2 linked regions of the Homo sapiens genome follow. The protein of the gene in region 2 purifies or fractionates together with the protein of the main gene of each other region. This does not show direct contact. Each region holds a gene or a part of one and is shown on either strand. Other genes may lie near its edges.

The links.
Region 1: the proteins of DNAAF11 (region 2) and HSF2 purify together in Homo sapiens (affinity purification with a luminescence readout; one large-scale study listed by IntAct). This does not show direct contact.

The regions. Positions count from the first base shown.
Region 1 is NC_000006.12:122,402,652-122,406,474, reverse strand, and holds part of HSF2 (heat shock factor protein 2), read right to left. Parts: intron 1-3,823. UniProt on the Homo sapiens protein: DNA-binding protein that specifically binds heat shock promoter elements (HSE) and activates transcription. In higher eukaryotes, HSF is unable to bind to the HSE unless the cells are heat shocked.
Region 2 is NC_000008.11:132,612,743-132,616,565, reverse strand, and holds part of DNAAF11 (dynein axonemal assembly factor 11), read left to right. Parts: intron 1-1,468; coding exon 1,469-1,528; intron 1,529-3,389; exon of another isoform or gene 3,390-3,541; intron 3,542-3,823. UniProt on the Homo sapiens protein: Involved in dynein arm assembly, is important for expression and transporting outer dynein arm (ODA) proteins from the cytoplasm to the cilia. Acts as a crucial component in the formation and motility of spermatozoal flagella.

The sequences.
Region 1 (3,823 bases), on a different chromosome or scaffold from region 2:
TCTTACTATAGATCTAGGGCCCTATACCATCTGCTCCTGCCTACCTCCCTACTCTCACTCTCCTAATTCCCTAAAGATATTCTAATCACATGGGCCTTCCTGCTTCCTTGAACAGCCACATTCAAGGCCTTACCTTTTGTCATTCCCCTTTGGCCCATCTTTTCTAATCATTTAGATCTCTCCTCAAACATCGTCTCCTTGGAGAGGCTTTCCTCATCACCTTACCTAAAATATTCACAAATCCTAGTCTGTTTATGGGCCAGTTATCAATTTATTGCTCCAAATTCATTCTTCATTGTCTGCTCTACAAGCATAGAGCTTGGTTCCTTAAATAAATATCTTTCTTTTTCTAGGTGCCATGATGTTAAGTTCTGTCAGCAGGGGATAAAAGAGAGATATTACAAGAAAAAGGAGCTCTTGTTCCTGACTCATGTATCCTTGGCAAGCTTCTGCAGTGGAGGCAGCTTCTCCAGTGCCTAGCTCTTGATATTAATGGTGGTCAGCAACACTCAAAGACCATCAGCTTTCACTGGTGCTTCCTCTCCCTTGGGAGGTTTCAAAGCAGAGTATCTCTAACAAGATATCTCCCCATAAACAGTTTTTTAGAGTACTCCAGAACAGGGATTTATAAACTTTTTCTTAAAGGGACAAATAGTAAATTAGGCTTGCAGATTATAACATCATAACTCTACCTTTGTAGTGAGAAAGCAGATACAGACAATATGTAAATAGATTGGGCATAGCTGTGTTCTATTTAAACTTTTTTTTATAAAACAGCTGGCAAAAGGACTACAGTTTGCCAACCCGTGACCTAGAGGGCATATTTCCCACCAAGTTTTGAAGGATGCATTTCCAGTAAGTTCCACCAGAGCAACACCAGTGACTGCTCTGCTACTGAGTCATGGCCATATTCCTTCCAATAAGGTAAGAATCTTAGCCTTGGCAAAAAAGGTTCTTACTTGGGCACTCTATCTCAGCCCTATCAGTAGTGGCTGCTTCTTAAAACTATTCTTGTATTCTTTTAATTTTCTTTAATTTCCCTGATATAGTCAGTAACTCTATTAAACTTACCCTCTTGAAAATACCTGTGGCTTCTGACTTATGATTGCATCTTAACCGACACACAGTTTATCTTGGTGTTTTTTAAAGGCATTTATCACTAACTGAAATTATATTGATTGTGTTTTGCTTGCTTTTACTTTTTTTTTTTTTTTTTTTAAGAGACAGGGGTCTCAGTATGTTGCCCAAGCTAGCCTCAAACTCCTGGGCTCAAGCAATCCTCCCAACTCAGCCTCCCCAGTACCCAGAACTACGACATGCACCACCATACCCAGCTTGTATTTGCTTACTATTTATTGATATCCACCACTCAATGTAAGCTCCATAAAGGTAGGCACTTTGGTTCACTACTGAATGAATTCCTGATACCTAGCACAATATTAGGTCATAACAGATTCATAACAAATACCTGTGACTGACTAAATTAATCTTTGGCCAAATAAACTGAATTTTTAGAATTTCAACTATTTGATTATATAAAATAGGGAGATGACAATAATCTCTTGCTATACCTGTGCTCACTCTCTCTCACATACACTCCTTATTCATTCATATCACTCTATCTCTGCTTATTGTATTCCCTCAGTCTCTATTCTAAAATTAGTAAATAACTTCTTTGAGTGCAAAAATTCACCTTCCTGTCTTTTAAACCTGTGAGGTTCAAGCAATACAACACAGAATCTCCCTAAGTATTTTACAAGGATGAGAAAACTACTACTGAGTGAGGTGGGAAAGATAGGCACCTTCTCCTTAAACCTTACCCACAAATGTTGGCAAGAGTCCAAAGAGTAGAAACAGTCGTTACTCTCCAAATTAATTTTGGCACTCTTGTTAGAACACTCAAAATATTCCTAATAATCTAATACTTCAGCCACATTACTTTAAAACATTTTTCGGAACAGAAATTTGTGGCTTGCTAATCTATAATTTTTAATATGCACCAGCTACTCTTTTAGAGTCTTTAGCTCATTCTTTCTCTTATATATACAAATAAAAATACTTGAAAATCAATCTTTCAACTTTTCTGCAGGTCCATCTAAGTTGGATTTTACCCCCATCCTCCCACACTTGTAGTCTTTCTTATTTTCACTTTGAAATACTAATATAATGCAATGGTTGCTGGGATGTTCAAAACAATACTAGCACTTTGTGAAGTCCAAGGGCCTACTGCTCAAATTCATCCAAAACAGCTAGAAAACAATGGAAAAATTCTGTTTTTGCTCTCTCTCCCTCCTACCTATTTCCTAATTCATCTCTGCTGACATGAGGGGGATAGAGAAGCAGAGAATGCCAAAGGGCACAAAAAGGGGGGAAAGCTGGGTATGAAGTCTTTGGTGGAAATCACTTCATTTTCTCAAACAATCTGAAGAACAGAGACAAAGGTAACAACACTGACAAAAGGATGACCTTCCAGTTCTTTCCTTCTTTTATACTGCTTCACTTCAGCATACGTTGGTTGTAACATTTCATTAACTCGTAAAGGCTGTTTTTTACTATATAACTTCATTTAACCTCTACGGCCTTGTCTCTGAATATCAAGTTTCACCAGTTGCTTCCAAGCTAATATGTGCCCTCTCTTTAGGACACTTAAGATTTAAAACAGTTTTAGGTCGTCTGACAGTACAATCTCTGTACTTGATTCTGACAACAGACTACCAAAGCCAAGAACAGTTATATAAAATTTTACATTTAAAGGAAATGTTAAAAAAAATGAAAACTTTTCATTTTTGTTTTTCAGAAGAGTAAGGAGAAAATGGAAATATGTAAAACATACTTTCTTTTCTTTCTGTTTTTTGTTGTTGTTGTTTTGAGACAGGATTTCGTTCTGTTGTTCAGGCTGGCTTGCAGTAGTGTGATCTCAGCTCATTGCAACCTCTGCCTCATGGGCTCAAGCCATCTCCCCTCTTCAGCCTCCTGAGTAGCTGGGACTAAAGATGCACGCCACCATACCTGGCTACTTTCTGTATTTTTTTGTAGAGACAGGGTTTCACCATGTTGCCCAGGCTGGTCTCAAACTCCTGGGCTCAAGCAACCTGCCCATCTTGGCCTCCCAAAGTGCTGGGATTACAGGCATGAGCCACCACGCCTAGCCACATTATGCTTTCTTAAAGACTGTCTGGAATTAAGGCATTTCTATTATTTTAGAGTCAATAACATATTTAAGTATAATTTCAATTGTTCAGATTATTATATTCTTGTATTTAATGGTGAGAGGTATTATTTCCCTTTTCAATTTTGTCATATTGCAAATTTCGAGGAAAATTAAAGTTATGTACGTCTCCAGAGATATTATCTAGAGATATTACCAACTGCGTTTTCCAAAACGCAATTGGTAAGAGTTTTTTTTCCCTTGCCTTACACTCAAGGTAGAGAAATAAATTATTTTCCACCATTGAAAAAAAAAACTGCACAAAAGCTTGTCTGGTTCCCAAAACAACTGCTTCTTCTAAAAGTTCTCAATGATTTTCATAGTATAAATGCTAAATTACCTCAACAGAAATACAACACAAGTTTGAAGGAAACCAGAAACCACCATAAATAGCAACTTTCAAAAGATGAGAGTACCTGGGCGCCGGTGGCTCACACCTGTAATCTCAACACTTTGGGAGGCCGAGACGGGTGGATCACTTGAGGTCAGGAGTTTGAGACTGCCTGGCCAACATGGTGAAACACTGTCTCTACTAAAAATACAAAAATTAGCCAGGCATGGTGGTGCGCATCTGTAATCACAACTACTCGAGACGCTGAGGCAGAAGAATCGTTT
Region 2 (3,823 bases):
ACCCCTTGGCTAAGACCAGAAACCTTGGATTCTCCCTTAATTCTTCTCTCCCTCATTTTATCAGTGCGTCCTATGAACTCTTCCTTCGATATTATCAGAATCCAGCCACATCTCACTGACCCCACCACCACCACTAGTGGACACTAACTCTTGCTTGGACAGTTGCAATTGCTTATTAAGCAGTCTCCATGGTTTATCTGTTGGCCTCCTACATTCTGTTCTACTCAGCTAAATAAAGAAGAAAAAAGGGAAGAAAGGATACACGCTCCTTTTCTTAAGGGACATTCTTAGAAAGTGCCATACAACGACTGTCCCTCACATGACCTCACCCACCTGCAAGGGAGGCCAGAGAATGCAACCTTTATTGTACATAGCCATGCCCCTAGTTAAAACCATGGTTCCTGTCACTAGGAATAAAGGGGAAGCAGATAGCAACTAAATAGCAATCTCTGCCATAGGAAAATTCTCTGAAATTACTTTACAAGTAATAAGCAATCGAGGCAGAGCAGGAGCATATAAAAAGGCTCCTGAGATGAGGTTCTACAAATGCATGGGTCATTTGAGACACTGAAGAAGTCCCACAGGCCTGACTATTGAAAGCAATGAGACAGTGCCTGCCACAAGCAGAAATGGGGCGAACAGCCAAATCTATCGCTAACTTCACATTTTCCTAAACAGTTTAGCTTATGTTCTTTAATATTGTTGAGTTGTATGTTTTATAGAGTAATACAGTAACTGAAATGTTCAAAAGAAAATTGACCAGGCAATTCTGATAGTATGTTGTTCAGTGTGGAAGCTAGACCTAGGACTCAACCTCGGGGTACAGTTGAAAGATGGTGGAGCTTTGAAATCCTGCCTAGCCAGGCTCGTGCAGAGAAAGTGTAAAGGCATTTATTATAATTCAGCTATGCCAACCTCTTTGAACCTCTGTTTCTTCATCTATAAAACAGAGGTAATAGATAATGAGCAGTGTCTCAGCCTTTTTCAGGGCAATGGAAAGGTCAGCGATGAAAGGAGAAGAAAAAAGATAGCAAGAAAAAAGAAGGAAGACAGGACTCTAAAACTTAAGGAATAGAATGCAGGATAAAGGGGAGGCAAAAGCAACCTTTAGTTCTCCATAAATAATTCCAATGTTTTAGTTTGCTTCTGGCAAACTCATATGAGATGGAAAAGAAAACTTTAGCCACCAGATGTCTCTATCTCTGCACTAAAGCTAATTTTTTGTGTGTAATTTACCTTAAGATTCTCACATTTAAACACTGTAAACACAAATAATTTATTAATATGTTGTAGGTTTTGCTGAAATGTTAAAATTACCGTTGATATTTGATTGTTCAACCACTAAAATAAGTTGTCTTTGGATATTATTATAGAATTATTATCTAATCTGCTTATGAATTTATGATGGGGTTTTCTATACAGTATCCTAAAGACATCTCTTTTTTCCCACCAAATGTGTTATTCTTAGAATTGACTTCTCTTTGAAAGATAACGAAAAGCAGATCATCCTGGACCTTGCTGTCTATAGGTAAAGACATTTTCTACGTATTTATTTATGACATTTCTGTCTGTTTTCATTCTCAGTAGTAATTTTTTAGTTTGAAAAAATTGAAATGGAATTGACTTAGACCTATAGTTAAATGAAGCTTATTTGTTAAGACAGAGAAGTTACTATAATTTTTAAAAGCATGAAAATGAAAGGAAAGGTAAATAAAGCCACAATTTCATGGATATGAACTCAGGAATATCTAAGGCAGAGTTTAAATAATTCTCAGACCTGTGCTGTTTTCTGATGCTGATACTACAAGGACCCCACTCTGTCTTTGCTGGCATAGTCCTCTGTTTTTGTCTAAAATGCCTTCCTATAGTAGTAGGTATCAGGTGATCGGCTCCCCTCCCTCAGTCCCATCTCAGAGGCCTGGGGGAACACCTAGCAGCCCCTGTCACCAGTGGACCCTTCTTCCCTGCTGCCCTCTCACATCCTGCCTGTTTTCTCACCCATGGGTAGGAGTGGCACAGACCTCCTGCCTGCCCTCATCACCACACCCAAACTATTGTCCTTTTCTCCTCCCTAAAGCTCCATGGCTTTGACACTCAAACCTTCAGCCTGTATCCCCTTCTTCTCTTCTTTGTGGAAGCATCTAAAGGCAGCAGGTCACTCTGCCTCATTCCCTGAAGATTTTAGGCCCTGGTTCACTGTGCCGATACATCCTTCTGATGACCTCAGTGTCCCCTGGCACCATCTCAGAGGCTGCTTGCCTGTGCTTCCCTCTGCCTGTATCACCCTCGGTGTCCTTGTGGCTTGCTGCCTCGTGTCCTTCAGGCCTCTGCTCAGATGTCACCTCATTAGAGGGGCCTCTCTGCCCCACCATCTGACATAAAGCAGTACCTACCCCTGCCCAGCACTTCCTTCCACTCTTTCTACTTTTTGACTTCCTGCTGACAAAGTGTAAATTTACTTGTATTCTTAAAAGTTTGTGGTCAGAGCAGGAAGCTTGTTTTGTTTGTTCTTTCCTCTCTACATCTCCACACCTAAAACAATACCTGGCACCTGTTAGGTGCTCAATAAACACAAGAATGAATGAATGAATGAATGAACAAATACTGATGATGGGAGTATGACATTGACATGCATGAATGAATGGATGAATGTTTACATGCATGAATTATAATAAATGCCTTTCTCTTTTTAATGGCTTTTGATGTGCCCCATTTTATTTAATCTCTCAGTAACCCTGGGAGGTTGGAGGGATTATTACCCAAGAGGGGGTAACTTTTCCAAGAGTGAGTCTTGTCAAAGTGAACAGGGACCGAAGGAGCCAGAACATCAGCCCTCAGGACTTCAACCAACTTTGCTGTTTTGATTGTGGTAAAATACACATAACTTAAAATCGACCATTTCAACCATTTCAAAATGGACAACACCATGGCATTTAATAAATTCACAATATTGTACAACCATTACCATTGTCTAGTTCCAGAAAATGTTTATCACCCCAGAAGGAAACCCCATGGTCCTTAAGCAGTCACTGCCCATTCTCTGTCTTCATGGCAACCACTAATCTGTTTTCTGTCTCTATAGATTTGCCTATTTGGGATATTTCATATTAATAGAATCATACAACATGTGGCCTTTGTGTCTGGCTTCTTTCACTTACCATAATGTCTTCAAGCCTCATCCATGTTGTTGCACGTGTCAGAATTTCCTTCCTTTTTATGGCCAAATACTATTCCATTGCATAGATGTACCACATTTTGTTTATCCGTTCACCAGATGGTAGGCATTTGGGTTGTTTCCACCTTGGCTCTTGTGTACCAGGGCTAGCCTTAGTGTGGTCCCTTCCTCTCCACACCAAGCTGTCTCAGATCAGCTGTGTGCCTCTCCACAGAATTCCTGTCAATTCTTCTGCCTGCTTGCTGCCAGGTTATCTGCCTTTACAAAGATCCCAGCTCTTCTCCAGCTAGCTTCATATCCTCTGCTCCTCCAGCTTCCCAAGCTGCCGTTTCTACTGTTTTTCAGACAAATCACTGTTTCATCCTTGTAAGTCCTTTCCATTTTTAGGCCCTATGTCTGGTGTTTAATGAATGTATAACCCTTTCTTTTTCAGCTCTGTTGGCTGCTTCCTGTTCAGTCCTCAAATGGAAACATTCCTCATTCCCATGCATGTGCATTTTAAGGGGTGGTAATATTTCTCCAGTCTATGTAGTAAAACTCTTTCATTCCCATGATTCTGTCTAAATGAATTATGCTATAATTCCTGGTTATCTTTATGGGCACATAGGTGTCTACTTGAAAGTTAAATTCATTCGTTCACGCCTGCTT